2 linked regions of the Homo sapiens genome follow. The protein of the gene in region 1 interacts with the protein of each later gene in a pairwise test. Each region holds a gene or a part of one and is shown on either strand. Other genes may lie near its edges. The genes, in order: E2F2 and GNB5.

The links.
Region 2: the proteins of E2F2 (region 1) and GNB5 interact in a two-hybrid assay, tested with the Homo sapiens proteins (one large-scale study listed by BioGRID and IntAct).

What each region holds. Positions count from the first base shown.
Region 1 is NC_000001.11:23,520,964-23,524,774, forward strand, and holds part of E2F2 (transcription factor E2F2), read right to left. Parts: exon of another isoform or gene 3,626-3,811; intron 3,526-3,625; coding exon 3,420-3,525; intron 1,094-3,419; coding exon 874-1,093; exon of another isoform or gene 623-873; coding exon of another isoform or gene 609-622; intron 109-608; coding exon 1-108. UniProt on the Homo sapiens protein: Transcription activator that binds DNA cooperatively with DP proteins through the E2 recognition site, 5'-TTTC[CG]CGC-3' found in the promoter region of a number of genes whose products are involved in cell cycle regulation or in DNA replication.
Region 2 is NC_000015.10:52,135,893-52,139,703, forward strand, and holds part of GNB5 (guanine nucleotide-binding protein subunit beta-5), read right to left. Parts: intron 1-3,811. UniProt on the Homo sapiens protein: Enhances GTPase-activating protein (GAP) activity of regulator of G protein signaling (RGS) proteins, such as RGS7 and RGS9, hence involved in the termination of the signaling initiated by the G protein coupled receptors (GPCRs) by accelerating the GTP hydrolysis on the G-alpha subunits, thereby promoting their inactivation.

The sequences.
Region 1 (3,811 bases):
TGGATGAGCTGGTCCAAGGCCTGCTCCGTGTTCATCAGCTCCTTCAGCTCCTGCCCCAGCTGTTGCTGCTTCCCAGGTCTGGTGGGGTCTTCAAACATTCCCCTGCCTCTGGGAACAGAGCAGCCCCCCAGTGTCAGTCTGTGGGTGAAACTCCAGAACAAGGTCATTCAAAAAATAGTCTATGAGGGTGCTTCCCTGGGTTGTGGAAATCAGTGGTCATGCCTGTCTCTCAGGGAGCTACCAGGGATTGGAACCAGAGGTTTGGGGGTTGGGCTTGGGAGAAAAAACAAGTCAAGACCTGAACCCCATTTCTGAGGGGCTCTCGACTCTGTTCATCCCTATGCCCCAGCCTCCTCCAACTGGAGTAGCCTCAGTCCTGACTCCCTCCCCTGCCTGGTTTCTCTTAGGATTTATGCCAAGGGCTATAGGTCAGCTCTTTAAACCCTGTAGAAATGGAGAGAGGAGGCTGGAGTACTCCTATCTCAGATCTGGAAGGAGTCCGGGATCCCCCTACTTAGCTCCCAGGGGACTGCCCTAAGCTAGAAGAAGTGGATATTGGGATCTCTGACTCAAGAGGAAGAATCTGAGGTTCCCTTTGGCCTTTACACCTCCCAGATGTCATTCTCCACTCTGCCCCGCATCACGTTCTCCGATTACTTCAGCAGGTACACGGCGCTCTTCCTCACCATACATTGGCTCTACCCCCAGCAATAAGCCTATTGGATGTTGCTCTTGGTCCGCCTCAGCCCTTGTGCCCATTGGATGTTGCTCTCAGCCCCGCCCCTGCCACTCACACCCACTGGCTATTGCCTCTGGCTCCGCCCACAGCACAAGTACCCATTGGAGGGTACCACTGGCCGCCCAGGCACTCACACCCACTGGATGTTGTTCTTGGCCTTCTTGCGGATGAGCTGGATGCCTTCCAGCACGTTGGTGATGTCATAGATGCGCCGCTTCTGCACGTCCAGCACCTCAGCGGCCCAGTTCAGGTCCAGGACCCCATCCTCTGACTCGCTCAGGAGGTAAATGAACTTCTTGGTGAGCAGCCCCAGCGAAGTGTCATACCGAGTCTTCTCCCCGGGGGATTTGGGGGCTGAAGAAGAAAGGGACCCAGTCACAGCTCAGGGAGGGGAGGGCCCGCCCAGGACCCTCGTCCATTGACCTAGGCTCATTAAGTACCACCTTTCACCACCCACTTTCCAGTTTACAAAGCAGTGTGAGCCAGGGCATCCATCACCACCACTGTCCAGACAGGGAACCTGATACCTAAGAGGGAAGGTGACTTGCTTAAGGTCTCACGGCCAATGGGCAGTGTTGGAAGCCTAGTGTCCTGACTCCTGGTTAAATGCACATTTCCACCACAGCTTAGGGCTGCCAGACCACCACCCACAACTACTGTCACTGTTCTAAGTGCTTTCCATGTACGAACACATTTAAGCCCTACAACACCCTGTAAGGGTTGCTGTACAATCATCCCCATTTTATAGATGAGAATACTGAGGCACAGTTTAAGTAATTTGCTCAGCTCACTCAGCTAGAAAGTGGCAAAGCTGGAATTCAAATCCAGGCAGTCTGACTCCAGAGTTTTCCTTAACCATTACCCTATCCTGCCACTTAAATGTCCGGAGTTTGGAATTAGAATAGGGTAGAAATGATAAGCCTGGATTTAAGAGCATTTTTATAGACACACACTTGCTTTTTCTTCCCATGTGAATCACAATGATTATCTGAGAAAAATCGGTCCTGTAACATCAAGTCGGGGAGGTTCATGAGAAAGGTCCCTTTCTCAATGAGGTTGATGTTGCAAGACCACATCTCAGCTGCAGCATCTTAAACCACGAGGGGACTTTTGTAATCGAGTGACTTCCAAGTCATATAGCAAGTTAGTGGCCAATCCAGTAATTCTGGAACCTGAATTTTAGAGTCTTAGGTTCCTCTGGAGGAGGACCAGTTATCATGAGCCTCAGGATCCTTCAAGACAGTGCTCTGGGCAGCCTTGACCAATCAAATGTAGAGGAAACTTTCTTGCCATTCCTGATCTAGCTGTGTCTTCTTTTACACAAGACAACTAAGGTTCACAACAACTAAGGTTCACAGGAGTGACCTGTCAGGTCGGAGCAGAATCCTACCTGGACCCCCAAAACTAGTGTTCCTCCCAAACACAGTTGCTTTAACTCCTGCTCTAACCAGGATTTTTTTTTTTTTTTGGAGATGGAGTCTCACTCTCTCTCCCAGGCTGGAGTGGAGTGCAGTGGTGCGATCTTGGCTCACTGCAACCTGCCTCCCAGGTTCAAGTGATTCTCCTGCCTTGGCCTCCTGAGTAGCTGGGATTACAGGCATGCGCCACCACACCCGGCTAATTTTTGTATTTTTAGTATAGACGGGGTTTCACCACGTTGGCCAGGCTGGTCTGGAACTCCTGACCTCAGGTTATCTGCCCACCTTGGCCTCCCAAAGTGCTGGGATTATAGGTGTGAGCCACCACGCTCAGCCTATCCAGGATATTGACTGAAAATATCAAGAGGCAGCAACCCCCTCCAACTTAGCTTTAGGAAGGCACCACCTGGGCAGCCTCTGGATCTTAAAAACCTTTGGGGTGGCAGAGACTGGATTAATCTGTGCTTCCCTTCCCTTTGAATCACTTATTCAGCTCCTTGTCTGCATGTGGGAGAAAGACCCTGGTTAGCCCCTGCTCTTCTGATTTAGAAAAATTTACCTTGACCTAAACATTAAAACGTTTTAAAAATAATAAATTCCCAAATAAAACACTGGTCATTGAGTTTAGATCATGAGAGCAGTACATGGTATGGTAGAAGTAGTGCGAGACTGGCCAGGCATGGTGGCTCACGCCTGTAATCCCACCACTTTGGGAGGCCGAGGCGGGTGGATCATTTGAGGTCAGGAGTTTAAGACCAGCCTGGCCAACATGGTGAAACTGTGTCTCTACTAAAAATACAAAAATTAGGCAGGGATGGTGGCATGTACCTGTAGTCCCAGCTACCTGGGAGGCTGAGGTGAGAGAGTTGCTTGAACCCCAGAGGTGGAGGTTGCAGGGAGCCAAGATGGCACCACTGCAATCCACATTTGGTGACAGAGCGAGACCTGTCTCACAACAACAACAACAACAACAACAACAACAACAAAAAAAAACACAGAAGTAATGCAAGATTTACATGTCCAGGCTCTAGTCCTGACTCCACTCTGAGACTATGGGCAAGTCACTCAAGCTCTCTGAGTCTCAAGTTGCCTGATTAGTAAAGACAGACAAGCCTACCTACCTGGCAGGATCAAATAATAAAATACGCAGGAAGCTTTTGTAAACTGGAAAGTGATCCAAATATGACTACCAGTGATTGGGCAGGGCACTGCCCTCTGCCCCTGCCCCACCCCACCCCAGAGGCCCCATCAGCACTGCTTACTTTTGGGGCTGGGGAGGCCATCCACTCTGATGCACTTCCCCTTGGGGGTTGGGAACTCAGGGACGACGGGCCTCCCAATCCCCTCCAGATCCAGCTTCCTTTTGGCCTTGGAGAAAAGGGGGAGAGAGAGGCAGAGTTTGAGAATCATTCCTCCTTTAGCCTTTCCCTGATGTGGGGCCAAAGCAATGAAGCCACTTAGCAGCCACCTCTGTGCCTCAGTTTACCGCCAGTCCTGGTGAAGCACTGCTGTACTTGATAGGAAAACATCAGTGACCTGAGAAGTGAGCTTTCAGGGGAAATCTTGTTTTCTGAAGGGCAAATAAAACTCCCATCCTCTGAGGCCCAGGCACTTGAGACCCTACCAAAGCCAGTCTGGCCAAGGGCTCAGAGCT
Region 2 (3,811 bases), on another chromosome or scaffold:
ACCCTACCTGCTGTATCTGGGTTCATGCACAGAAATCTCTCTCCTATACAAAGAAGGAAAGAGTGCATTTCCTACACCCTCACAGTCCTTGAGTTGTGTTTATATGGTTGTGGTTATTGCTTATGCCGGGGGCAGTCAATCAGAGGCTTAACGTTTTGCAGGGAAAAGCAGAACACACACACACACACACACACACACACACACACAGGGAAAAGCAGAAAACACACACACACACACACACACACACACACACACACACACACACACACACACACACACACCCTACCTGCTGTATCTGGGTTCATGCACAGAAATCTCTCTTCTATACAAAGAAGGAAAGAGTGCATTTCCTACCCTCACAGTCCTTGAGTTGTGTTTATATGCCTGCCTCCCAGCAGAGCTGAAATCCTGGCGGCCTCATGGTGGTACCTACAGGGCTCTACACATGCCTGGCTCGTAGGAAGTGTTCCGTGAGTCTCTACTGAGTGTTTAAAACCTTCGATGCCTCCCACTGCTGTGCAGGCCAAAAACTTAAAGTGCTTCTTGGATACTGATGCATACACATCACTGGGCTGCTTGCTAATAGAGTCTGGGGTGGGGCCTGAGCGTCTACACTTCTCACAGGCTCCCAGGGAATGCTGAGGCTGGTCACGGGGCACACTGGGAGCAGCAGGGGTCTAGGCAGCATCTTGTTGGACATTCTCTGTTGCTGCTTTTCCCGAGCACAGTGCTGCCCAGAGGCTTCCCAGGACCACTGACGGGTGCCAGAGGATATTCACGCATACACAGGTTCAAGAAACATCTGCTGTGTGCTGACAGTGTCTGCCAGGCACTCTGCTAATGCATGAGGGTTTGCAGAAAGATTGTGTCTCAGTTTCTGTTCTCCCAGAACTCAGTTTAATAGGATTGCCAGTAAGAATGAAACCAACATAATTCCCCATCCCTGTGTTAAACAATTCTGGGACCAGGCCAACTTTCCTGTTACTATGTTAAACCATATTGAGACCAAGTAAAAATAACTTAACTGCTTGCTGCAGAAAATACCTGCTCCTGGGAGAAAAGACTGTGAATCGATTAGACAACTTACCAAGATTAACAGCTTGCTCATCCAGACTCAAAGACTGTTCGCTTGCTGGGCTCACCAATCCAAAGCTAAAACGGCCTTGCAAGACCCACCTTAAAATCACCAAGCCTGGACCCTGAAATCCTCTAAGTACCCTTCCCTAATTCCTCCATTTTCAGAACCTACTAAGATTCTGCCAAGTGGAGGTTCTCCCTTACTGTGGCAGGTCAGATAACCTTAGCTTTGCTTGGTTGCAAGTATTTCTGATGTTCGCTTGGGGAGTTGACATCACCAGTAGACAAGGATCAATGACAACAGCATGAGAAGTGCTGGGATCCAGGTGTGCACACAGGAGGGTCCCAAACCCAGTGTGGTGATATCTGAGTTGGTCTTCAAGGAAGAGTGAGAGCTGGCCAGGTGAAAGAAGGGAAGGGGAGAGACAAACTCCAGGGGGGCCTATGTCTGCACTAAATGAAAGGTGAGCCCGTTCACAGGTGGGGACTCAGTCTGAAGCCAAGAGAGCACTCTGGAAGCTTCTGGGCAGGAGAATGAGAAAAGCAAACGTATGTTTTAGGAAACTCTGGCAGAGGCCCAAAGAGCCTCTGGATAGCTTACAAGTACAAAGGTCAGCCATAGAGTAAAGGCACACAGGGGTGCCCAGGGAAAGACATGGGGACAGGGCTGGAATTTTACTTTTTGTCACTGCCAGTGTGTATGAGGCCTGGGCTCTGGCTGAGCATACCTTCCTGGGATTGGGAGAAAGGCAGTGAGGACTCAGGGTTCGGGGCCCTCATAGGCCCAGCTGGCGGCATCACAGAGCCCTGGAGCCAGCTGGGTACTGACAGCAATGGAGGGGACCTGCAAGGGAGAAGCTCTCCCTGCCTTCTGGCTGCTCCACAGGGCCTGGGTGAGGTGATAAGACCGTGGAGGAAGTGGCTCTTGCAGCATAAGTGTCCACAAGAGAGCCCTTTGCGGATGATTACTGATGGCTGAGGAAAGAAAAGAGGAATCAGGCCTTATGCACCGCTAGCATGCAATGCAACCACTGACCACACCACACCTTCAATTTCCAGCTGCTGATGGGATCTCTCCTCCTCACCCTTTGCCCCCTTTCCCTTTTTCTTCCCCTCTCTCTTATATGTTAGGCCTTGAACATAAAGAATCTCATTTTTTTCCCAGCACTTTGGGAGGCTGAGGTGGGCGGATCACCCAAGGTCAGGAGTTCAAGACCAGCCTGGCCAACATGGTAAAACTCCAACTCTACTAAAAATACAAAAATTAGCCAGTTGTAGTGGCTCACGCCTGTTGTCCCAGCTACTTGGAAGGCTGAGGCACTAGAATCGCTTGAACCTGGGAGGCGGAGGTTGCAGTGAGCTGAGATCACGCCACTGTACTCCAGCCTGGGCAACAGAGTGAGACTTGGTCTCAAAAAAAAAAAAAAAAAAACTCATTTTTTTTTCTTTTTTTGCAGGGAAGGAACAAATTACAAGGAGGGGAATCTGCTCCCGCCCTGGTGTTGCACCCACTGGCTGTCCACAGGACCCCCTCCAGCCTTGACTTCCCTCAGGAGGCCTGCATACATCCAACAAGATGACTTAAGCTAGCAAAGTAGCTTATGGACACACAAAACCTGAACCGAGGCTGAAATTTGGGTACTCATATTTTGTTGGATGCTCAAATTCCCTCAATCTCTCCTGGCCCACACCCACTAGTGGCTGTTCCAACTCACTGCTTTCCTAATAACACTTGCAGTAACTTACAGTTTATTTTGAGACACCAGGTCCAAACAATTTTCTTTAAGCAACTACCCCAGTCTTGCTCTTTAATTTAGGAAATTTTCATACCATACTGTTTGATCAAAGAAATGAATAGTTTTTAAAAGTTAAAAGTAGATTTCTAATACTTTTCAATTTTGTGTTTCTGATCTTCATTATAATATAAGTAAAAATAAAGTTTAAAGACCAAACATTTATTCATATAAATGCATTAAACAGAACCCCTAACTCATTGTCACTCATTTGTTCTGGAATGCAGAGAATTTGTAAGTTTAATACCATAGTCTCATACCAGCCGCTTGAGTTTCTCTTTTATCAACCTAGATCCCAGGGATTGAAGAAAGCTGGAGGTTCATGAGTTCAGTAGTACCCAAACTAGGCCATGTATCAGCATCATCCATGAAGCTTTGTGTTAATAATAATAAAATTGGCTGGGTGCAGTGGCTCACGCCTATAATCCCAGCACTTTGGGAGGCAAAGGCAAGTGGATTGCTTGAGCTCTGGAGTTCAAGATCAGCCAGGGCAACACACCAAGACCCCATCACTACAAAAAATACAAAAATTAGCCAGGCATGGTGGCGTGTGCTTGCAGACCCACTACAGGCCTACCAGCTACTTGGGAGGCTGAGGCAGGAGAATCACTTGAGCCTGGGTGGTGGAGGCTTCAGTGAGCCCAGACTGTGCCACTGTACTCCAGCCTGGGTACTAGAGTGAGACCCTGTCTCAAAAAACAAACAAACAAACAAACAAATAATAAGAGTTAACGCTTACTGATATTTACCAGGGACTACACTATGTACATGAATCATCTAATTTAAGCCTCAGAAAACCTTATGCAGGACAGATTTACTACTTTACTATCCTCATGTGCAGGTGAGAAAAATGAAGCACGCAGAAATTCAAACGCTGTCTAGGATCACCAGCTAGAACACAGCGGAGCCAAGATCCAATCCTGCTGTCTGCCTCCAGAGCC